Homo sapiens: one gene and its partners. The protein of the gene in region 4 interacts with the protein of the main gene of each other region in a pairwise test. Each region holds a gene or a part of one and is shown on either strand. Other genes may lie near its edges. The genes, in order: PPP5C, TNIK, RNF19A, MAP3K7, ZNF746, NDUFS6 and ZNF593.

The links.
Region 1: the proteins of MAP3K7 (region 4) and PPP5C interact in a two-hybrid assay, tested with the Homo sapiens proteins (one large-scale study listed by BioGRID and IntAct).
Region 2: the proteins of MAP3K7 (region 4) and TNIK interact in binary tests that used the Homo sapiens proteins (3 or more experiments, as listed by UniProt).
Region 3: the proteins of MAP3K7 (region 4) and RNF19A interact in a two-hybrid assay, tested with the Homo sapiens proteins (one large-scale study listed by BioGRID and IntAct).
Region 5: the proteins of MAP3K7 (region 4) and ZNF746 interact in a two-hybrid assay, tested with the Homo sapiens proteins (one large-scale study listed by BioGRID and IntAct).
Region 6: the proteins of MAP3K7 (region 4) and NDUFS6 interact in a two-hybrid assay, tested with the Homo sapiens proteins (one large-scale study listed by BioGRID and IntAct).
Region 7: the proteins of MAP3K7 (region 4) and ZNF593 interact in a two-hybrid assay, tested with the Homo sapiens proteins (one large-scale study listed by BioGRID and IntAct).

Annotation. Positions count from the first base shown.
Region 1 is NC_000019.10:46,388,281-46,391,475, forward strand, and holds the end of PPP5C (serine/threonine-protein phosphatase 5), read left to right. Parts: intron 1-127; coding exon 128-168; intron 169-272; coding exon 273-451; intron 452-1,770; coding exon 1,771-1,852; intron 1,853-2,003; coding exon 2,004-2,066; 3' UTR 2,067-2,695; downstream 2,696-3,195. UniProt on the Homo sapiens protein: Serine/threonine-protein phosphatase that dephosphorylates a myriad of proteins involved in different signaling pathways including the kinases CSNK1E, ASK1/MAP3K5, PRKDC and RAF1, the nuclear receptors NR3C1, PPARG, ESR1 and ESR2, SMAD proteins and TAU/MAPT.
Region 2 is NC_000003.12:171,079,406-171,082,905, forward strand, and holds part of TNIK (TRAF2 and NCK-interacting protein kinase), read right to left. Parts: intron 2,990-3,500; coding exon 2,846-2,989; intron 248-2,845; coding exon 113-247; intron 1-112. UniProt on the Homo sapiens protein: Serine/threonine kinase that acts as an essential activator of the Wnt signaling pathway. Recruited to promoters of Wnt target genes and required to activate their expression. May act by phosphorylating TCF4/TCF7L2.
Region 3 is NC_000008.11:100,264,954-100,268,453, forward strand, and holds part of RNF19A (E3 ubiquitin-protein ligase RNF19A), read right to left. Parts: intron 1-3,500. UniProt on the Homo sapiens protein: E3 ubiquitin-protein ligase which accepts ubiquitin from E2 ubiquitin-conjugating enzymes UBE2L3 and UBE2L6 in the form of a thioester and then directly transfers the ubiquitin to targeted substrates, such as SNCAIP or CASR.
Region 4 is NC_000006.12:90,517,573-90,521,072, reverse strand, and holds part of MAP3K7 (mitogen-activated protein kinase kinase kinase 7), read left to right. Parts: intron 1-1,753; coding exon 1,754-1,815; intron 1,816-2,510; coding exon 2,511-2,626; intron 2,627-3,500. UniProt on the Homo sapiens protein: Serine/threonine kinase which acts as an essential component of the MAP kinase signal transduction pathway. Plays an important role in the cascades of cellular responses evoked by changes in the environment.
Region 5 is NC_000007.14:149,491,310-149,494,809, forward strand, and holds part of ZNF746 (zinc finger protein 746), read right to left. Parts: intron 3,195-3,500; coding exon 2,895-3,194; intron 2,807-2,894; coding exon 2,680-2,806; intron 1,664-2,679; coding exon 1,550-1,663; intron 1-1,549.
Region 6 is NC_000005.10:1,813,978-1,816,548, forward strand, and holds the end of NDUFS6 (NADH dehydrogenase [ubiquinone] iron-sulfur protein 6, mitochondrial precursor), read left to right. Parts: intron 1-361; coding exon 362-484; intron 485-1,873; coding exon 1,874-1,939; 3' UTR 1,940-2,071; downstream 2,072-2,571. UniProt on the Homo sapiens protein: Accessory subunit of the mitochondrial membrane respiratory chain NADH dehydrogenase (Complex I), that is believed not to be involved in catalysis. Complex I functions in the transfer of electrons from NADH to the respiratory chain.
Region 7 is NC_000001.11:26,168,679-26,171,373, forward strand, and holds ZNF593 (zinc finger protein 593), read left to right. Parts: upstream 1-1,229; 5' UTR 1,230-1,305; coding exon 1,306-1,505; exon of another isoform or gene 1,506-1,739; coding exon 1,740-1,802; exon of another isoform or gene 1,803-1,896; coding exon 1,897-2,038; 3' UTR 2,039-2,195; downstream 2,196-2,695. Other genes in the region: transmembrane protein ZNF593OS, read right to left, coding at 2,511-2,657. UniProt on the Homo sapiens protein: Involved in pre-60S ribosomal particles maturation by promoting the nuclear export of the 60S ribosome. Negatively modulates the DNA binding activity of Oct-2 and therefore its transcriptional regulatory activity.

The DNA of each region.
Region 1 (3,195 bases), on a different chromosome or scaffold from region 4:
TCCCCTGCCCAACACCCACCCAGGCTGGGCTGTGGGGTCAGCACCTGGCCGGGCCAGGAGGTGGCCTGTGAGTGACCACCCCCGGGGAGGTGGACGAGTCCCTAATGTTTCCCTCGCTCCCCACCAGGGCCCATGTGTGACCTGCTCTGGTCAGATCCACAGCCACAGGTGAGTCTAGGGTGGGGTGCAGGGCCGGCGGGTGTGGGCTGTGGCAGCAGGTGGAGGCAGACAGTCACCCTGAACCCCTGTCTCTCCCTTCTGCCCACCCTCAGAACGGGCGCTCGATCAGCAAGCGGGGCGTGAGCTGTCAGTTTGGGCCTGACGTCACCAAGGCCTTCTTGGAAGAGAACAACCTGGACTATATCATCCGCAGCCACGAAGTCAAGGCCGAGGGCTACGAGGTGGCTCACGGAGGCCGCTGTGTCACCGTCTTCTCTGCCCCCAACTACTGGTATGTCTTTGCCTTTCCAGCCCAGGGCCTCTACCAAGCCACGGGTTTTTGTCTTGGTTTTTGTTTTGCCTTTTTATGATGGAACATTTCAAAGACAGGCAAGAGCAGATAAAAGAACATGACGAACACCCCCGTATGTGTCACCCACCCATGCAGCACCAGTGGGGCCAGCCTGTGAGTGCTGACCAGCTGCCCTGTGTTACAGCAAGCCCCTGGCACTTCACCTTTCTCCCACTGATTGCCCAGCACTTTTCAGAAGGAAAGGGATCTTTTTCTTAACCACAATATCGTGTTTACACTTTTGAGTGCTGGCTGGGCATGGTGGCTCACGCCTATAATCCCAGCACTTTGGGAGGCCGAGGTGGGCGGATCACCTGAGGTCAGGAGTTTGAGACCAGCCTGGCCAACATGGTGAAACCCCATCTCTACTAAAAATACAAAAATTAGCAGGGCGTGGTGGCACACACCCGTAATCCCAGCTACTCAGGAGGCTGAGTCAGGAGAATTGTTCGAACCCGGGAGGTAGAGGTTGCAGTGAGCTGAGATTGCACCACTGCACTCCAGCCTGGGGAAGAGTAAGACTCCATCTCAAAACACACGCACACGGGCAAGAGTAAGACTCCATCTCAAAACACACACACACACACACACACACACACACACACACACACACACACACACACACACACACACACACACACACACACACACACACACACACACACACACAGTGTTGATCCCTTGCCCCCACCCGAATCCTGCCAAGTTCTCTTTCTCCTGGTCTCTCCTAAGTGTCTTTTCCAGCTGACTTCTTCCAGACAGGACCTAAACAAGGACCACATTTTCAGTCTCTTTGCCTGTGAGTTCCCTGTCTCTCCCCACCCGCATCATTTATTTGTTGAAGAATAGGTTGCTGCCTGCTGTACGAGTCACCTGTGTCCTGGACTAGGCTGACTGCATCCCCGTGGTGCCGTGTGACATGTTCCTCTGTTCCCTGCATCTCTGGGTGGGCAAAGCTAGAAGCGTGGTCAGATTCCTAGTGGGGTCTGGCGAGCATCCACCTCCATGAGCTATGCCCTGCCCCTTCCTGCTCCTGCTTCCTGCACTCCCACCCTCTTTTCCCCATCCCCATCCTCCTGCCCCTCCCATTCTTTCCCCTGGATTCGTCTTTCCCATCTCTGTCTCTCTGTCCATCTGTGTCTGTTGTGGCTCTGTCCCTCCCTCTCCCTCTGTCCCTTCTTGCCCAGCCATTCCTTCTCTTAACCCACCAGCCCCACCCAGCCCTGACCACACTGTCCACTCTGCTCCTGTCCCTGCAGCGACCAGATGGGGAACAAAGCCTCCTACATCCACCTCCAGGGCTCTGACCTACGGCCTCAGTTCCACCAGTTCACAGCAGTGGTGAGTCACCCCTCAGGGCCCCTGCCCCTTCCATCCCGGCCTGGGGACAAGGAGGCTGAGACCCTGGTAAGGGGCAGGGGTAGGTTCTGCCGGTGGGTGCTCAGGGGCTCTGTTCTGACTTCTGTCCATCCCACCTGCCCTGGTCCCACAGCCTCATCCCAACGTCAAGCCCATGGCCTATGCCAACACGCTGCTGCAGCTAGGAATGATGTGAGGTGACGGGCGGGGCGGCCTGCATCCCAGGGCCCCTCCAATCCCACCGGACCCAGGCCCTGGGCTAGGGGCAGAGCAGGCCCCGCCCCAGGGCAATGTTGGACCCCCTTTTACTTTGTAAAGTTTGTATTTATTCCCCTTTAGGTTTGCAGAGGGGGTAGGGGCAGAGTCAGGGGCTGGCCAGAGGGTCTGCTCCCTGGACAGAGAGGAAGGAGGTGGAGCAGCTGGGGCTGGGGGCACAGCCTGGGCATTCTGTGGGGAGGCCGTCCTCGGGGTGGGGTGGGGCCGAGTGGCTGCCCTGCCCCCCTCATTTGCATGGCTCCTCCCCCACTCAAGCAATAGGGCCCCGCCATAGGAAGACCCCCAGAGAGAGGGTCAGCAGGGGGGCCCCGCCTGCGCCTCCCCTCCTATAGCCCCATGGTGGGGCTAGGCTGGGGCTCACCCCCCTCCCCAGCTATTTTATGTCTGTAATTAAATATGTTAAAATAAAGTCATTATCGGAAGTCAGCTTGTCTCTGGATGGTGGAGCCGAAGGAGCTGCCCGGGTTGGGTTACGCCTGCTCAGGAGATCCGGAGGGTGGGGAGGCCGCAAAGTCCCGCTGGCCGGGCCCACCCAGCTCTGGGCTGACCGCCCAAGTGGCCTCTGCCTCTGCCCAGCACCGTGGGCTCCTGGGGAGAGTTCTGCCCCCTGGGTGGGGCGATGAGGCCAGCACTGAGTGGAGCGGAGCGGAAGCTGAGGCATAGCCTCATCCTTTGCTGGCTCCAGCAACAAGCATGACAGTGCCGCTCCCTGCTCCCTGCTCAGGGTAGGCCCAGCAGTGGTTCTTGACATCACACGATGAGGCGCGCATCTCCCGTCATCCAGGGAGACCAGAGGACCCTTGTCTCACTCCCAGTTGGCTCTTAGTCACAGGTAACGTTGGATTCCATTCAGGCTGCCCTGCCAGGCCTTGACCCTCCAGAGAGATTGTGTTTTCAAGTTTGAGCTCCTCTGGACTCAGCTTTCTCCAGTGGTATGTGGCACTGGGGGATGGTCTACAGCAAATGACTCCTGCAGGGCCGAGTCCGGGAGTGTTTGGCCCTTTGGAGACCTCCCAGGCAGACATGAGGCGTCCGCGGTCCTGATTGCG
Region 2 (3,500 bases), on a different chromosome or scaffold from region 4:
AGCTGGTCACACATGCATCATCAATCTGATAGAAAAAACTAGGTGAAACCTAACTAAGTAAGTCTGATTGAGTAAACAGACCAAACTTATAATTCCATGTCTTGAGACTTACCAACTTTATAATGTATACAGCCTTCCAAGTCCCCAACAGTGATCCAGCCTTGTTTCTTTTCTACTTCTGGGTCATTATGTAGTATTCTGTTTCTTAACCATGAAAGATAGTAAACTCGTAGCTTATTCTTCTTTCCTGTTGAAATAATAGAGGTTTAATTTCAAATTGCTGTGACAGCTCTCACTTTTTCCTTCCCCACCTCCATTTATTTCTAATTTATTTTATTTACGTGTGTGTGTGTGTGTATGAAGGCATAATAACCAGTGTCCCCAGCACTTTGTCATTAAAATGGTGTTTCTGCCAGAACTTATGGTTAAAATAGCTCTACGTGTTTTAGACACATCACAGAATTACAATGTCTTTTATCTTCAGGTGGTTTCTTATTTGAGCATGTGCTCTTACTCTCTCTTCCCAATGCAAAGCAGTGTCTGCTGAACTTAGTAAGAGCTAACTCTTCAACAGAGTGATCAGAGTTCCAGAACATTCTAGATCAATCACATGAAGAAGTGTTGGCAACTGGGCATTTTGGCACCTGCCTTTCCTTCACCGTATAACCTAATAACAAACAAGAGGATAATATGGGTTCAGAAAATTATACTGGGCAGGTTTATGGTGCTGAAGTCACTGAAAGGAATACTGAACAAAAATAGGAAAAAAAGGATGCAAACTTGAAAACTTAAATTTCCGTTTGGTAAAGTGATCTTGGAATAAAGAATTCATAGGATGATAAAATATTTAGACAATATTGAAGAGTACACAAGTAGCAAAACTTGATATACTCCATTTGATGATTTGCACCAGATAAAATGTCCATTGGGATGACTCTTCCTAACTAATGATAAATTTAGCTCTATGGGTTTTATTTTTTGGATACTTATTTTTCTTTATCTTAGGCTTTAAAAATGTTTTATTTATTTATTTATTTATTTTTTTTTGAGACATGAGTTTCACTTTTGTCGCCAAGGCCGGAGTCCAGTGGCATGATCTCGGCTCACTGCAACCTCTGCTTCCTGGGTTCAAGCGATTCTCCTGCCTCAGCCTCCCAAGTAGCTAGGATTACAGGTGCCGCTCCCAGCATGCTCAGCTAATTTTTATATTTTTAGTAGAGATGGGGTTTCACCATGTTGGCCAGGCTGGTCTGGAATTCCTGACCTCAAATGATCCGCCCGCCTCGGCCTCTCCCAAAAAAAATGTTTTATATTTTATAGATGAATATATACCAGCAGAAGAGAACTTAGTAAAGCATTACACATGCATTTGACAGGAGAGCACATTCATCACCTAAACTAAGGGAATCATTGTGTGGTCAGTATTCAATTTTGTAACCAAAGGCCTAGAATCCACATTGATCACAGTAGCTAGGATGGACACGAGAGCCAGTGTTTCCTCCTTTCTATGCCAATATGAATCCAAGGTTAGTTCAAGAATCTTTTGCTCCTATTTTCATTTTCTCCTTTCCCTATCTGTGCCTCATGAGAAAAGGAAACTCTTACACTGTTAAGAATGAAGATGTGCCACTAACAACATAATGAAGTCTGAATGTGAATTTTCTGGTTGCATTCCCACTTTTGGCAGATATGCAGTTTTCATTTTGATTTGGTAGTATAGCAATCAGGACAGCAATTAACCAGAACAAAAGACTACATGGGATTAAACTCAAATGGCAATACAAAAGGAATTTACCTGGTTAACCTTATTTGGGGAGAATAAAAAGAGATGAAACTGAGCATTCAGTGGAAAGGTAAAAGAAAGAGGAAGTTTAGTGACAAGCAAAAGCATTTTGTCAAAATGGAAGTACAGCTGAACTTTGAGGAAAGTTCAAACCAGCATCCCTGTGTTGTCTCTTCGTGAAACAATGGCTGAGCATAAATCCATGTTCTCAAACTTGGCTGTACAATGGAAACACATCAGAAACTATGAACGCTCCTGATGCCTAAACCCCACCCCCAGAGATTCTGACTCTGGTCTGGGGGTGCAGCCTAGATTTTCACATCTCCCTAGGTGATTATAAAGTGCAGTAGCAAGTTGGTTCCATACTAGATGGAATGAGAGGGGAAGTGACGGGTGTTACTCGTTAAACTCCTTCAAATACCAAAAAGAAAAAAAACTTTCAACAAAACTACCCTCTTTTAGGTTGCATTTTTAACTTGTTACAAGGCCTTCACTTTAGTCTCCATCTTTTTTTTTTTTTCCTATATAAGGCTCTTTTTGGGAATCAGAAAGCTACAGAGCATAGCAGTAATGATTCCCACACTCAAATCTTTTTGTAGACTTGATCACCCAGTGTGCCAGCTGCACCTGCCAAAACATCAGTGGGCTATAAGCAAGAGAATTTTTGAGGGAAGAGACCAAGAAATTTCTGCTTACTAAATGTCCCTCTAGGAAGCCTGCATTTTGATATTCTGTCTGTATGTGGTAATAACTGGAGTGCAGAAACCTTAAAAACATCCGAAGATCCTTGCTGAGTCCTGACAGAGGTAAAGAGCTATAAATATATAGCCTTTGTGGTATGTCTCTGCCTAATTCAGATTTAATGCAGAGGTGAGAGACTTCTTTTTGGAGGTCAGAATTCCCAGTGTTACAAAATGTGGGCAATCTCACTCTGGCTATACTGCTATACTTTATTGTGTTGTTTGTTAGCTGGGAAGGGCAGAACTAACTGTTTCTGCAGAAATGAGGTGGATCCCTTTCCCGCTGTATGGACCTGGGGGACTCATCATCTTAGTAACATACCTGAAATTGTCACAAGGACATTCAGTCCCTCTAGCACATCCATCTGCTGAAATCGCCTCCGGTTGATCAGATTATAGACTTTGCCTTGCCCACTTCGGTCCAAAAGCATCAGGCCATTTTCAGTCCCCACCAGAAGGTTTACACCTGTAAATTTAAGAAGCACCCTAAGACTGACTTTTCATGAACTTTAATCTTCTGCATCGAGAGTCCCTATAAAATTTAAGAAACTGTGACTTGTAAATATACACTAATGGGCAAGTAGGTAAATATAAACTAATGAATGTAGAAGCTCTGACATAATAATTAAATCATTGTACTTCTGGTAATGAAATTACAGTTTTCTTTTATAAAGTTAGCAGCATTCATACATCTAGTTATTTACTACCTAATGCAGAGAGTCCTTGTCAATAGGAGCCTTAGGCACAGATGTGAAGCTAGCATAATTTGCCTTTATTCCCTGCCTGGAAAAACCACTTCTTTCTTGGCTCTCCCTATAAATCACTTCTCTTCTTCCCCAAGATTCACCCCCACCCCTATGCAGTGGTCTCTAGCCTACCCACCTTCAATATACAGTGGAATTTCCATTTCCATACTCCAATGGAAGAAAGGCCCTTCCTCCTTCTTGAATCAAAATGTAACTATCTTATGCCCCATA
Region 3 (3,500 bases), on a different chromosome or scaffold from region 4:
CAAATAATTTGCTCCTTATTAATTTGCTTAAGACAGTGATTTAATGGATTTTACTTTGTGCTTAAAAGTTCTGAGTAAAAGTCATCTTTATAATCTTAATCAAAAGTAGTGTAATTATGTATCGAGCAAAGAGGAAGAAATTAAGATTATTATTTTCAACACAGTTATGAGTTACATGGTTCACCAACAGGATACTTCCAGCATTCTAAAGGTTTCTTTCTAAAGAATATTCTCTAAATGGTAAAAATTGGCTTCTAGGGAAGGTTTCTTTTTAAAAATTGACCTTAAAAAGCAGTTCTAATAAACAAGTATGAATAAACAGTATTATTTTTTTCTCAGATCCTTTTTATGAAGACAATATTGACAAATGACTCAAATTCCAGGGCTCTCATTTATAGCTCAAAGTAAATGGCAGAGAAAGAAAAAAGATGATAAATAATGGCTACCAGAAGACAGGATTGAATTCACTCAGCAATCTCTGTACAGGACAGGTGTTAATAAGTAGAATTTGATATCATCATAGAAGCGGTGATTAAAAACTGGCTTGTGAAATTATATGAACTTTGAGATCTTTATTTTCATGGTTTGCAAGGGCTAATATGGCACATTTTCCCCCTCTGTTCCAAAACAAATTCAAAACAGCCTCAAAAGTATGGGGACTCTCTAAAATAAAATGACTTATAAACAATACTACAGATGGGACTTATAAAATAATCTATTATTACATGGTATAATAACACCTTTGGCCTTTGGAAGGCTGTAAAGTACGATGAGTGTTGTGGAAAACAGTAGAAAGGTTGGGGTGGGAGGTGGGTGATGCATGTATGGGACAAGAAACCTTTCTATTTCCTAGTCAGAATCCCATTTCCCAGCATTGACTAGAGGTTCCTTGTCAATGAGCCTCCTCACTTCCCTACACAGTCCATGCAGGCAGAGATGGTAGACCTTCCCAAGGTACCTTTCATTATCCTTCAGCACTGCAGCTAATTCCTGCTCCTCCCCACTCCCATTCCTGGGAAACTTAGCACTGAAGAAGAGAAAAGGCACAACTGATGGAGCAGACTTGCAAAGGCAGGCTGCCAAGAGAAAGGAGTCTTCTAGAAAATTTTTCAGCCTCAAGCACCAATGTTTGATTAGTGATCACATTATCCCACTATTTCTGGTTCAACTTAATTTTTCTGTTTACTATTTTTTGCCACATTCTCTACTTTTTATTGTTAAGTGAAGGCTCAGCTTTTGGGTACTTTATTGACTTAGCAGGTTTTCCTAGGCTGGTTGGGATCCCAAAGCACCACAGAATATTATTTCAATGGAAAACTAATTCATTCATTTACAACCCTTTGGGTACATGTTTGAAAAAAGGAGATCTGTAACTGTACCCTATGACCTGAACAATGAGGTAAATAATCTCTTCTCTATAAATGATTTATAGGTACATGTGGTACAACAGTCTCTCTTTCCCTTCTAAGTATCTGAATAGTTTTGTTTTCAGCAAAGCCTTGCTTTGAATAACTACATGAAAAATTACGATCAGCTAATATATTTTGAAATTTTTTATTTTTTCTCTCTTTTTTGGAAATAGGGTCTCTCTGTGTCGCTCAGACTAGAGTGCAGTGGCACGATCACAGCTCACTGTAGCCTCAACCTCACGGGCTCAATCAATCCTCCCATCCCAGCTTCCTTAATAGCGGGGGCTACAGGCATGCACCACCACTCCCAGCTGATTATTTAGTTTTTTGTAGAGACAAGGTGTCACACTGTGTTGCCCAGGCTGGTCTCAAACTCCTGGATTAATGCAATCCTCCCTCCTCACCCTCCCCAAGTGTTAGGATTACAGGCATGAGCCACCACACATGGCCCAACATTTTTTAAAGTCCAGGTTTACTCACTTAAAACCTTCAGAAATAAATATGTGACTTATAAATATGTTTGTCATCAGCCCCAAAACTAATTTTTAAGAAATAGTATATATTATTTTTCTGATTATAAAATGTATGTTGAATATAAAAAATTCAGCTGTTTTACAGAAGAAGATCAACCTTATTCCCAGTCGGGTCCCAGAAGTTAGAAACAGAAATAAAGGAAACAAAAGGAAACAGATCTGACTCAAACGTAACAATTTTGTAACAATTAGTAGCCATTTTACAACAGAATGGATTGCTTCATGAGTTGGTGGTTTCCCCATGACTGAGTTCCCAAATAGCTACTGAAACTTAATCATGGAACTTATATTAAGAATTCATGCATCTGAGTTCAAATCTCAGCTCTGCTTCTTTGTGTGTAACTGAAGATATATTACATAAACTTTCCTAAATCTCAATATTTTAACACACAGAGACCGAAATATCGAGGTTGCTGCAGGGTTAAAATAAGTAAAAGTACATACAACACCTATGACACAGTATGACAACCTTTAGATCCTTTTTTTATTTTAGAGATAGGATCTTGCTCTATCACCCAGGCTGGAGTGAAGTGGCACAATCACAGCTCACTGCAGCCTCCACTTGCCCATCTCAAGCAATCCTCCCACCTCAGCCTCCCAAGTAGCTGGGACTACAGGTGCATACTACCATACCCAGATAATTTTTAAATTTTTTTGAGAGATGGGGTCTCACTATGTTGTCCAGGCTGGTCTTGAACTCCCAGCCTCAAGTGATCCTTCTGCCTCAGCCTCCCAAAGTGCTACGATGACAGGAGTAAGCCACCATGCCCAGCTTGTTAGTTCTTTTTTTTTTTTTTTGAGATGGAGTTTTGCTCTTGTTGCCTAGGATGGAGTGCAATGGTGCAATCTCAGCTCACCGCAACCTCCACCTCCCAGGTTCAAGTGATTCTCCTGCTTCAGCCTCCCGAGTCTGGGATTACAGGCACCTGCCACCATGCCTGGCTAATTTTTTCTGTATTTTTAGTAGAGATGGGGTTTCACCATGTTGGCCAGGCTGGTCTTGAACTCCTGACCTCAGATGATCCACCAGCCTCAGCCTTCCAAAGTGCTAAGATTACAGGGGTGAGGCACCGCACCTGGCCTGTTAGTTCCCTTTTTGAAAATTGCTATCCTTTGTTCTGCTTGGGTACAAGGTTGGGATTAATTTCTTTTTATTTTTTAAAAAAAGTTTTAATTTTTTTGATCTTCTTGGATACCAAAGAAAATTTCTTTTTTTTTTCTTTTAGCTATATTCTACTGAAAGTTACTTCTCAATCCAGAGATTCTATTAATTTAGGCAACAACAGACTTCTTAGGACCTCATAAATTATCCCATTAACCCTTAACAAAAGAACTATTTGCTTAGCTAATGAAATATAATTCATCAATTAGAGGCCAGTGGTAGTCACTGGTGTTTGGACTTTCACAAGATTGTTATAATTTGCAAAATAGTGTATTTATTAAAAGCAGTAATCCAAAAAAAAAGCTTTGAACTACAGCAGAAATAATTCAAGAACTGGCTAATTATTCTTTGCCTGAGGGCATGTGTTATTTAGCTATTAACTTTCATTAAAAAGAT
Region 4 (3,500 bases):
ACACAATCCTTGGACTTTTTTTCTGCTCCCAGAATACCACGCAACACTGATGTATTAAGCTTAATTCTAAAATACATATCAGATACAGGGTGCTGATATAATGAGATATATAATGTATCAGTGATTTAAGAAAGAATAATAGGAATGGAAATCTTAAATTGAAACTTTTTCAAGACACTTAAATTTTTCTAGTAAATCAGGAGGAAATCAGTCATTTTTAATCAGTTTTAGTTTTGTGGAAAGCAGTGTTTATGTGGGAGCGTAGTTTGAAACCACTGTTGGGGTGGGAGAAGAGTTGGTCAGAGAAATAACAAATTAAGTATATTTCTTGTTTAGCCACTTCAGAAAAACACACATTTATGTTAGTACTGTATATGAGCCTTAAGGGTAAGGGTAAGTGCCTTAAGTCTCTACTGTTTTTCTGTATTGCCCTGCAATATTTAATAAACATTACTTTTTCAATATGGAATTCATACTATACTATTTTAAATTGTTCTTTCTAATTCTCCATTTAGTATGAATAATAATGATAACTACCGTCATGTATTGAGTGCTTAATATACGCCAGGATTTGCATGGTGTTCCTCACATGCACTGGCTCATTTGGTCTGATTTCGCTAATTAGCTTTTGGAGTTTCTTGAGAGCACGTTCTCAGTGGCTTTAAAAAAACAAAAACAAAAGCAAAAAGAAAAAAAAACACCTGGATTATCAGTTGACAATAAATTAGAAGATTACTGAGCCAGCAACCCTTCTTGAGTTTTTTTGGATTGCATACAGTGCGTCTGCTGTCTTCCTGACTTGCCTTTATCCACACCACTCCTTCAAGGAGTTATTCGTCAGAAAAAGGCTGAAGAGCTCACTCATTTAGCTCTTTTTTTGTCTACTAACAGTGGGAAAGCAACTACTTCTGAAGTAGAAAAGTCTGTATTGCTTCAGAGTTACTCTGTTTACTTCTGGAACTGTTCTACATAACCATAAATGTTGAGAAGAGACTGTCCCACGCATCTCAGTCAAGTTGTATGGCAGTTTTACCTCTTTTGAAATATAAACAAAAGCATTCTATTCAAATAATTTTATAAAATTGACTGATTGTTTGAATTAATCAACTTAACTGTTTTCGGCATGACATTGAGCCACAGGTTTCAACCTCATTTTGGTTCCTTACTGTTCGTATTTGTAATATACTCTCATCACCAACATCTCGTTTTCTGCAGTGATTCTTACTGGGAAGGGCAGGATGAGTGGTGGAGGTCACATTATAATCTATATAAATTGAAAATGATCCACTGGAAGAGAATGTGTCTCTGCTTTCTCCCTTTCCCTGTTAAGGAACATTGATATTAGCGGAGTTGATATAGCCTTCTATAAAATAAACTTAGCATGATAAAGAAAAGAGATGGGGAGTTTGATTAGATAGGGTCAATTAAGACTGAATTTAAAATATAAAGGTCTCATCACTGTTTTTGTTTTTAATTAAGAGCTTAGAAGCTCTAATATATTGTGTTCTATTCAGTTTATAGCCAACTTAAATTATAGGTATGAGAATATAATTGCATTCTAATATCTGATAATTGAATATCCTTTTTTTAACCTTTAGAATTCAGAAATAGACTCTTCAATTACCAATAGCTGTAACTTTTAATTTACATATTATTTACTTTAGGGAAAAAAAGCATTTCATTCATGCTTTCTTGCTGTTCGTTTATAATTATTTGTGACAGAAAATCAATAAAATACATGCTTGAATTCCAGATACCAATGGATCAGATAACTCCATCCCAATGGCTTATCTTACACTGGATCACCAACTACAGGTAAAGGAGTACTTTCTTATTGAAAGTTGACTTTTTTCTTCTTAGAGAGTTTAAGTTGACAATTGTGTTGCTACCTGTCATTGTATAGTCACTCCTTAATTTATCCTTTTAGTTGGCCTCCTTAAACTTTTTAGAATCAAATCAAAATAATTCTTTTGGTTAAGTTAATCAAACTTTAAATTGGCAGAATCATATTCTTATCTTTTCAGTCATCTTAAAATCCTCCAGTATCTTTCTTTAGTACTGCTAAGCATTACATTTTCACTCTTTAATTTTAGTGCATTAAAACAAAACTCATAAGCTTATTTCTATTTAATACATTTGTGATACATTCTCATGTTCATAGTGACTGAAAATGTAAATAATATACTTCAGTGCCCCCTCATGAGTATGAGGGCTATAAACATCATTTAGTTTGAGCCTGTTTGCAGCCTGAAATGTCATACCAGAGACTACAACTCCAACAATCATGATTCTCTGTAACAGACTGTTAAAACAGCAAGAATAGATTTAAATGCTGAGTTAATTCTGACAAAAGGACACTGAGATTTTCTAGGGCATGGTTTAACACTTATTTTTAAAAGATCATTGCTTTAGTGCTATAAAAATATATCACAGTCTCTGTCTTGACTCTCATCTTAGCTAGATATTGAAATTTGATTTAATTATGTTTTAACATTCCTGATTATTTTCAGCCTCTAGCACCGTGCCCAAACTCCAAAGAATCTATGGCAGTGTTTGAACAGCATTGTAAAATGGCACAAGAATATATGAAAGTTCAAACAGAAATTGCATTGTTATTACAGAGAAAGTAAGTTATTTTTTATGAATAAAAATAAAAATACATTAGTATTTTGAGTTTAAAATATGATAAGGTGCAATGAAAACGTAGTTTTTAGAATTAGTCATTAAGTATACTTTCAACTTGTTTAAGCTTTAAGCACCCTTTTACTAAAAATTTTTTATGCAAAACTCAATCCTTTTGACTATCATATTAGTGCTATGGAAAATAAACTGGTGCTTTATACTTGTTGTTTTATGTTCTCAGAGCTGTTTAGACTTATTATTATAAAGATTTATTGTTTTCTTGTAAATAGATAAAATAATTTGATTTATTAACATTCAGTTGTGCCTTATCTTAGAAACATTTTTGTAGATACATTTTTTCCAGGTGTATGTTTAGAATTGGATTACTTATTAAAAGACTGTATTTCATAACTGAGTGTTTTTCTGAGGAGTTATAGAAACTGCCTTCCTCCCTTTTTAAAGAAACACAGCCTAATTTCCTTACTACTGCATTCACAGTTCTTAAATATGTATGTATCTTCAGTTTTCTTAAGCATGACCTCCATGAAATTTTATACTTAGGTAACTGAATTGTTGGTGGTAACTAAAATGAAGTGATAAGGAAAAAATTTTGGCAACTTTATATATGTATGATAATAGGATTCCCTTCATTAATTTTAATCTAAATAAATGAAAGTTGTTTTTTTCTGAATTTGCGAAAAGCTTTCTGTATGTACTTCAAAAAAAAGAGAGAAAAAATTGTTTTATCATAATTTATTGATACAGTGATTTAAATGGAACCAACCTGGTATTTGAAAGGTAAGCCTAAATAGGAAATTAAATACTACAGTTTGGAAATCGTAGAAGTAATTATCAAACTGCTGGCACTTTTATGTTGA
Region 5 (3,500 bases), on a different chromosome or scaffold from region 4:
CAGCAACCAGCGTATTTCCAGCCCCTCTTTACTCTCATTGAATGATGCTGTGGAAGTGAGGGAAGCCTCCACACATGGTGTAAATACAACGAAACCCACCCACCCAGAACCTCCCACCCAGGCTAGGAAGCTGGGGACGCGCACGGGTTGTAACCCTCTTTTCCAGCCCAATAGTATCTGTTCTCAGCCATCTTTCTGTCCTCTAGTGTTCAGCACTGTCCTTGACGCCTAGAAGATTCTTAAAAATGCATCTGTAGAGCTAAACTGTCAATGTCCCGATGACGACTGGCAAAGCGGCCAGCCCGGAACATGCTTCTGCCCTTAGGAAAGTGCAAATCTGACTGAGATGAGATGACGAACATGGGGGATGCATTTAATTTCACACAAGTGGCGCACAGGAGGGCCTCTGCGGACCACCACCTTTCTCAGTGTCAGACGAAAGGGAAAACCAAGGCAGGTGGGACGGTCAAGGGCGGGTCTTCTGGAGGAATCAGGGGTCGAGCCTTGCAGAGATGTGGTCTCCCTAGTCAAATGACCCAGCAGGTCTTCACTTTAGGAATTTGGTTTTTCTCCTGTGTCCACCTGTCCTTCCCTTAACTTTCAAAGGTGCTGACTGGCTCCAGGGAAATCTGAGACGCTGATATCTGGTAACAAGATTCACCTTAAATAAATGTGTGCTTCTAATAATACCAAACCATAAGGCTGACCAATGTAGACCAAAGTAGCTCTACAACTGCTACTGGTTTAAATTAAGGTTGGTTCTTGGAGGCAAGGCTGACTCTTTGCAAAGCTTTGGATTAATTTTGTTGTCAATATACAGCTGACCTTGAACAACATGGGTTTGAACTATGCAGGCCCACTTATAAATGGATTTTCTTCTGCTTCTGTCACCCCTGAGACAGCTAGACCAACCACTCCTCTTTCTCCTCAGCCTACTCAATCTGAAGAAGACAATGAGGAGGATGACCTTTATGATGCTCCACTTCCACTTAATGAGTAATAAATATATTTTCTCTTCCTTATGATTTTCCTAGTAACATTTTCTTTTCCCTAGCTTATTGTAAGTATCACTATGTAACACACAGAACATACAAAATATGTGTTATTGACTGTTCATAGTATCAATAAGGCTTCTGGTTAATAGGAGACTACTAGCAGTTAACTTTTTAGAGAGTCAAAAGTTATACATAGATTTTTGGCTGCGTGGGACTGGGGGCTGGTGCCCCTGGCCCCTGCGTTAAGGGTCAACTATGCTCCTGCCTTCCCTCTCAGCGTTCTCCTCTCCCTCCCCTCAACCTGTGCCCTGCCTTTGTCTCTTCCTAAAAGATTAGGTTTGCCACCTGTTTCCCTGACAGAAAGTGTTCATTTCTGGAGCATTAGCTGACTAAGTTAGAGATTAAAACTCAACTATAAAAAACTCAAGACATAAAACCTGTAAGTTTCATGTTTCTCCTCGACTCTCTCTGGAAAGATCACACCCTTTCTGGCCTTTCCGTCTCTGTTTCCTGCACAATACCTGATGCCTCCCTGGCCTTCTCCCAGCCCTTACCTGGACTGGGGTCCACAGGAACATCTGGAATCTTGGGGCCAGGGCGGCGCCAGTTGCAGGGCTCCTTCCCTTGTTCAATCTGGGAGAGGACCTCGGGCTTGGAGATGGCGTAGTCTGAGGAAAGACAGAAGGTTAGTTTTTGCCACGTTCCAGTCAAAGCTGGGGACAGTCATCCCGGAAAACCAACAATGGTCTAGAAATGAAATCTCTTGATTGTCACAAAGCAGTAGCTCTCAACCACAGGCAATTTTGCTCCCTGGGGGCATCTGGCAAAGTCTGGAGACAATTCTGGTTGTCATGCCCAGGGCTGGGGGAGAGGTGACTGGCATCTGGAGATGCCCTGAGAGGCCAGGGCTGCTGCTCAACATCCTACAATGCAGAGGATGCCGCCGACACACAGAATCACCTGGTCCCAAATGTCCACAGTGCCGGGGTGAAGAAACTGCCACAGAGCGTGCACGTTAAACAGCAGTGCACTTGTGCTGACGAAACAACCTCACGTCTGCACCTGCTCCTGCCCTCTCTAACAGGTCTCACTGCCCTCGGCTCCGGGGTCACACAGAAACCATTAGGAAGAGAAAACCAGCCCAGGAAGAAACAGAGTCCAGGCCCTTCCTGGGCAGGATTAAACAAGGAGAAGAGCAGTAGCCCCAGGGGCTGAGGGAAGCAAAGTTTTGAGGCATGAAGAAAATGTCTGCTGCAAGCAGCACCGTCTGCCCATGTTCTCCACTGACCTCGAGGCATGTTGCCGTAAGGGCCACGCATGTTTGTAGGAGAAGGCTGAAGGAAAGAGTCTTTCTCAAATGTGAGTCAATTACATACTGGATCTGAGAGCAGATGGGGCCTTCCCCGCTCCAAGTCAGCAAGAACAGAAAGGTCCACATCCCGGGCCTGCGTAGGAGAGAAGCCACCGCCGTTCCCAGACTGGCATTCTGGGAAACTCAACACAGGGAGAAGGGAGCTTTTAACTCCATCACCCAGGGCTCATCCTTCACAAAAGGTAACAACTTGCAAGGTCAACAATGTTTCTGGTGATTTATATAACACTGACATGAAAACAACTATGTGGAGGGAGAATTCTGAGGACTTGCAAAATCCCATTTAACAGAGAAATGAGTGTCAGGCCTTACCCAGGGAGACCAGCGTCTCGTAGTTGCCCCTCATCACGTGCTTGTAGAGCTCCTTCTGCCAGTCCTCCAGCTTGCCCCACTCCTGCTCGGAGAAATACACGGCCACATCATCAAAGGTCACGGGCACCTGGAACCACAAGTGTCACACTCGCTCACCCACACGCTCACGGGTTTGGCCGCTTGGGCTCCCACACCCCAAGGCGTCCCAGGGCTACCTTAGGGGACTCCCCCTTGCTGCCCGGGGGCAGCCGCAGGATCCAGAAGTTCCTGTTGCGCAGCAGGTTCTCCACGTTCTCCAGCCGCCTCTGCAGCAGCCCGTACTCCTGCAGCAGGGTCCCCAGCACGGCCCACTTGCCCTCCAGCTGGTTCCCGAACTCCACGGCTGTCTTCTCGCAATCAGCCAGCTTCTTCTCGGCCATCCCGGTTCGACCTTCTAGGGAAAGCAGGCGAGCAGCCTGCGATTCAATCTTCCTCTCCATGGCCTGAATCGTGGCTGCCATCGTCCACGGAGAAATCTTTCAGAAACAAAAGAGAAACTGGCATCACTCATTCCATCCACTGTCTTCATTGAGCCCCTCTCTCCCTAGGCACGGGGGAGTTGGGCTGGGAGTCCATATGTGTGGACAAGTGGGGCTATCCTATACCACATGCCAGATCTCAGGTTGGCCATCACCTGCTTGGGTATGTTAGGTCTATGTCTGGGTGGGTGCCTTTACTCCAGGCCTCTGCAGCACAATGCAGACCCTTATCACGGTGCTTATCACCCTACACAATAATTTCCTACCCACACCTACACTGTGGGCTCCCTGAACATGGTATTG
Region 6 (2,571 bases), on a different chromosome or scaffold from region 4:
CAGACAGGCCCGAGCAATACAAATGTCCTCAGGTGGGACAGAACGATGTGGTGGGGAGAAGAGGGCGTGGCAGAGCCCACGGGGCACGTGTCAGCATTTGCTGGGTCCACGGGGACAGAAGGGAAAGGCTCTGTGCTGCTGGGATTCTTGCAGTGCCTCTCCGCGTTTGGAACTTTATTCCAGTGAAAAGTAGATGTGTGTGTAGGCCCTGAATTTAATAAGGTCTACAATGATAATAGTTAAATGAAGCATGCACCATAGATTCGTGCTGATGGTACATGAATTTGTGTGTGGTGGGTTAAATTGTATGTAGTTAGCAAGTTTGTGTATTTGTTTACGTAAGTCTTTCTTCTTGTTCCAGGTGAATGAAAACTTTGCCATTGATTTGATAGCAGAGCAGCCCGTGAGCGAGGTGGAGACTCGGGTGATAGCGTGCGATGGCGGCGGGGGAGCTCTTGGCCACCCAAAAGTGTATATAAACTTGGTGCGTAGCTGGCCACCTGTGCACATGTTAGGGCAGCCTGCTCGTCCTCATACTCCCCTTCACTCCCAGTGCCTGTTCTTTCTGTCCTCTTCTCTACCTGCTCCCGAGGCGGCCCTTACGGGGTTCACACTGCTGGCACATTCACCCTACAGCGCCACACTACAGGGCCTACATAGAGCCGCCTGTCCGAAAACCCCCTTTCAACTGTGAAGTGGTGGGCGGCATGTTTCTCTTCTCGGACGCCCAAGCGTCTTTCCTCTCTGGGCCCTTCTCGGTTTGGTCATCATCTCAGCTCAGGCTGCCACACACAGCACCGCAGGCTGGGGTCGAAAACAACAAACACATTTCCCACAGCGCTGGAGGCTGCAGCCCAAGACCACCGTGCCGCTCTGTGGGTTCCTCCTGGGGCCTCGCTCCGGGGCTTGCAGATGAGGTCTCCTCCCTGTGTCTTCACAGGGCCGTCCCTCTGTGGGAGACTCCTCATCCCCTCTTCTTATAAGGGCACCAGGCAGATTGGCTCAGGGCCCCTATGTGACCTCAGTTTACCTTCATCACCTCTTTAAAGGCCCCATCTCCAAATACAGTCACATCGGGGGTTAGGACTTTGGGGGGCACACGGTTTATTTTCTAACAATCCCTATGTAATCTTTTATGCCTGTTGATGAGTGTCATATACAGGACCATTGAGAAAAAAAAGAACACAGGACCGGAGAAAGAGACCGTGGGCTGAAGCTGGGATGTGGAACTGGGGTGCAGGGTGGGAGGGAGGCTGCCACAGATCACTCAGGGACTCGGGCGGCTGCTGACCTGGGGTGCAGGGAGAGGGGGAGGCCACCGACAGTGGAGCACTCAGGGACTCAGGCGGCTGCTGGGCTTGGTGTTCTCCCCAAAGCAGAGTCCTGGTTAAGGGACTTTAACTTCGTTAGAGCTGACATTTATTAAAAGCTGTCATTATCTTGTTGCCTGTCCTGAAAAGGGGACAGTGTAACAGGCATAAATGGTTAAGCAGCCTAGAGTGGGACTGGGCACCCGGCATGTCCCCTCCTGGGCTCCAGCCCTGAAGGCCAAGCCTGGTTGTGCCTCACTGTCGTGTGCAGCACCCACCGCCTGCTCCAGGCCGCTGAGGTGTGGGGAGTGAATGGAGCTGCAGGCTGACAGTGATGTCCCTGGGGGTCCTAGGGGATGGCTGCGTAGCCCGGGGTGGGAGCCTGAGGCCAGGGGCTTCGGTCAGCCTGGAACCGAGATCGACAGTCTGCATTCTTACTTCAGTAGTAACTGCGTATTTTTGTTTCTGACAGTCTAAGTTTTATACATACATTTTCAATGCTTAATATCTAGATTTGAAGTAGAATATGGAAATATGACATCATTCCTTTTGAATTTTTTCAGGACAAAGAAACAAAAACCGGCACATGCGGTTACTGTGGGCTCCAGTTCAGACAGCACCACCACTAGAGCGTGTGGCACGCCGGGGGTCCCGCAGCATCCTGTGAGCATTTCCGCGGGGAAGCTGAGCACGTGAAGCTCGCTGGTTCTGTGCGAAGGGTATTCCTGGTGCTGAATAAAGGGTGTTGCTGTCAAGGCTGACAATTTGTAAGTTTGTTTCTTTCATAGTCTGGGCTTTGGAAGTGAACATCCACGTGGACATGGGTAGACATGCGAGTGGAAGCAGTGCCCGCTCCAGTGAGCCTGAGCTGCCTCCTGCCGGCCGCTGCCTGCCTTACCGGCTGCTTCTGTGTGTCTCCTCTTATCCTTGGGGCCACGTGGGCTGCAGGAATGGGCGGGGGGCAGGGAAGGAGAAGGAGAAGTGCCTCTTGTTTTGCAGATGCAACTGTGCTTCAGAGAGCCAAGGTGGGTCTTGAGGTGCATAGTGAAGGAGGGTGCCCAGGCCTCAACTGGTCCTATGGGAAGGTCAGCCTCTCTCCTGTTGCTGGCTTGCAGAGCTGGTCTATCCGTCCGTCCTAGTCCCTATGTTGAAATGTCAGATCTTAAAACCCAAGAATTTAAGCACTGGTTTGAAGGCATCGAAAGTCACATACTGGCCACATTAAGGACAGTCTATGTTTTTAAAAGAGTAAGGATTATAA
Region 7 (2,695 bases), on a different chromosome or scaffold from region 4:
AAAGGAGTCGGGGAGTGGGGGATGGAACAAGCTTCTGCCACCTTAGCCCCTTGTCTTGACCCATATTGGCCAAGAATAATGAAGTCATTTGTCTCTAGAGAGGCTTTCTTCCTGGGCCTAGGAGTACTTGAGTTGTTCATCTCTTAGCATGCCTCCAGGAAAATCTTCTTCCATTCACAAAATCCTGAGGTCTGGGACCCACACTGGAGCCCCTGTGACTGTAGTCATACTAGTTGTGTCCTCAGCAGGGCTCCACCCTGTGTCCCTACTTAGCCTCAATGAACTGGAGCAGGAAGGTCCGCAGGCCCCCAGTGGGCACCTTGGGCTTACATTTCACTCCTTTGTCTGGGCTGGAAACTGATTCCTCTCCCCAGGGATACACGTGCCTGTCTCCTTGTTTCCTGGCAACAGACTCCAAAGAGCTGGAGCCCCTGAATTATTGCTAAGCTCCTCTGGCCCCTTCCAGCTGAGTTGGCTCTGGCCAGCCTGGGAGGCACCAGGCTCCTGTGAATGGGGAAAGGCCCTCTAGCCACTCTGAGCATGCAACACCTAGGCCTTTGCTGCCAGCCCACCTCTGGGAGCCCAGGGCTTAGAGAAAGGAGGCAAAGATGGAGAGGTCCTTCTATGAGTACTTGTGAGAGGAACTGATCCCTCTGGAGTCTGGATGCCTGAGGACTGCACTCTCTGGGGAGGAACACCCTTCACGGATTTGGTTGGGGTCAGAGAGAGGATGGAGACTCAAGGGAATAACGGGAGCCCGGAGAAGTGAGGGCTTTTTCAGGGACTGGAGATTATCTCGGGAAGCCCTGGTGGGGCTGGGATTCCAAACTTATTCACTCTCAGTCATTTACTAATTTATTCATGACACAGACATTTATCAGTGCTTTCCAGAGATAAAGCATCCCACCCCCACCGCGGAGTCCAAGGTCTGGGAAACAGGAAGGGATGACAGGAGTACAGGTTGGCACTGATACTGGTTGGACCAGGCCAGGAAGAGCAGGGCAGCAAGACGGCCCCGAAACCCCCAGGCGCACGCACCACCCCGCGCCTCCCCAGCGAGGGCCCGCGGGGCCATGCCCTTCAGTGGGCACACTTCTGGGAGCCCGTCCTGAGCTCGGTCACTGACGTCGACGGCCGCCTGGCGGCGCTCGAGCCGCTGGCCGAGAGTGACGTCATCAGAGGCGGTCCGGCCGAGCCTGCCTAGCCCCCCGGCGTGGCCTGACGTAGCTGATCGGCCCGGAAGTGCTCACACGTGTGCTCCCTGCCCTGCTCCTGGCCCCTTGGCCGGCCGGGCTGTTTCTGGCCATGGGTCGCTCCCGCCGGACAGGCGCGCACCGAGCGCACTCTCTAGCCCGGCAGATGAAGGCGAAGCGGCGGCGGCCGGACTTGGATGAGATTCACCGCGAGCTGCGGCCTCAGGGATCCGCACGACCCCAGCCCGACCCAAACGCCGAGTTCGACCCCGACCTGCCAGGGGGCGGTCTGCACCGCTGTCTGGCCTGCGCGTGAGTCCCGGACGAGCCCGGCCTGGGGCGGAGGAGGGTCCGCGGTACCGGCCGGGAGATGTGAAGTTGAAGCCCCAGGCAGCGCAGAGTCTTCTCTCTTGGGACCCGTGGGTCCGCCCGCCTCCCGTTTCTCAGACCCGGATCCTGGCGTCAGGGACAAGCTAGGGCTAGGGAGATAGGTGCACTTGGGAGACTATCACCTCCTCACTCTCCTTCTCACTTCCATTCCTACAGGAGGTACTTCATCGATTCCACCAACCTGAAGACCCACTTCCGATCCAAAGACCACAAGAAAAGGTATGAAGGAGTAAGGAGAGGATTGATGGATGGGTGCTCAGCAGATAGGGCTCTCACCTGGTCAGCTCCCAACTCCTGTTTTTCTTTCTCCCAGGCTGAAGCAGCTGAGCGTCGAGCCCTACAGTCAGGAAGAGGCGGAGAGGGCAGCGGGTATGGGATCCTATGTGCCCCCCAGGCGGCTGGCAGTGCCCACGGAAGTGTCCACTGAGGTCCCTGAGATGGATACCTCTACCTGACATGGCCTGAAGATGCAGGGCAGAGGAATTGCCCATGGACAGTGACGCAAGGACTAGGCTGGGAGGGAGCGTGCCAACCCCTTTTGCCTCTGGGTTTGGGGAGCGGAGGGCCTCTTCTTGGTGCCCTGCCCCAAATAAAGGAACTGGACAAAGAGAACTTGCCTCCAACTCTAACTTCCAGGCCGCTGTCTCAAACTCCTGCCCTGGAAGGGCTTCTCTACTACTTTCTGTACACCAGGCCTAGGGTGTCTACTCCCCACTTGGTCTATCTCTGCCTTCCCTCTGAGGTCCTAGCATCTGAACTGGAGCACCCAGATGGAGGCCTGATGCAGTGTGGGGTGGCGGGAGTGGGATCAGATTACTCTGTCCTGCTTCTGACAGAGACTGATCCCCAGAAAAGAAGGCTTCTGAGATTGCACCCCCCTCCCGAGTCACCTACCCCCAGCATCCAAGTGAGAGTCTCTCTTCTTCGTTACGGGGCCCGTGGCACCCGCCGCTGCCCCACCATCTTCCAGACGGCATAGCAGGAGCCACCCAGGCCGAGGACAGCTAGCACTGTAGCCACAACTCCTGCCAGCAGACTCCGGGGCTCTGCCTTCAGCTCACCAGCTACCTGCATCTGGAGGTGCACAGAGGGTGTGCCTCAGGGGTCAGTTG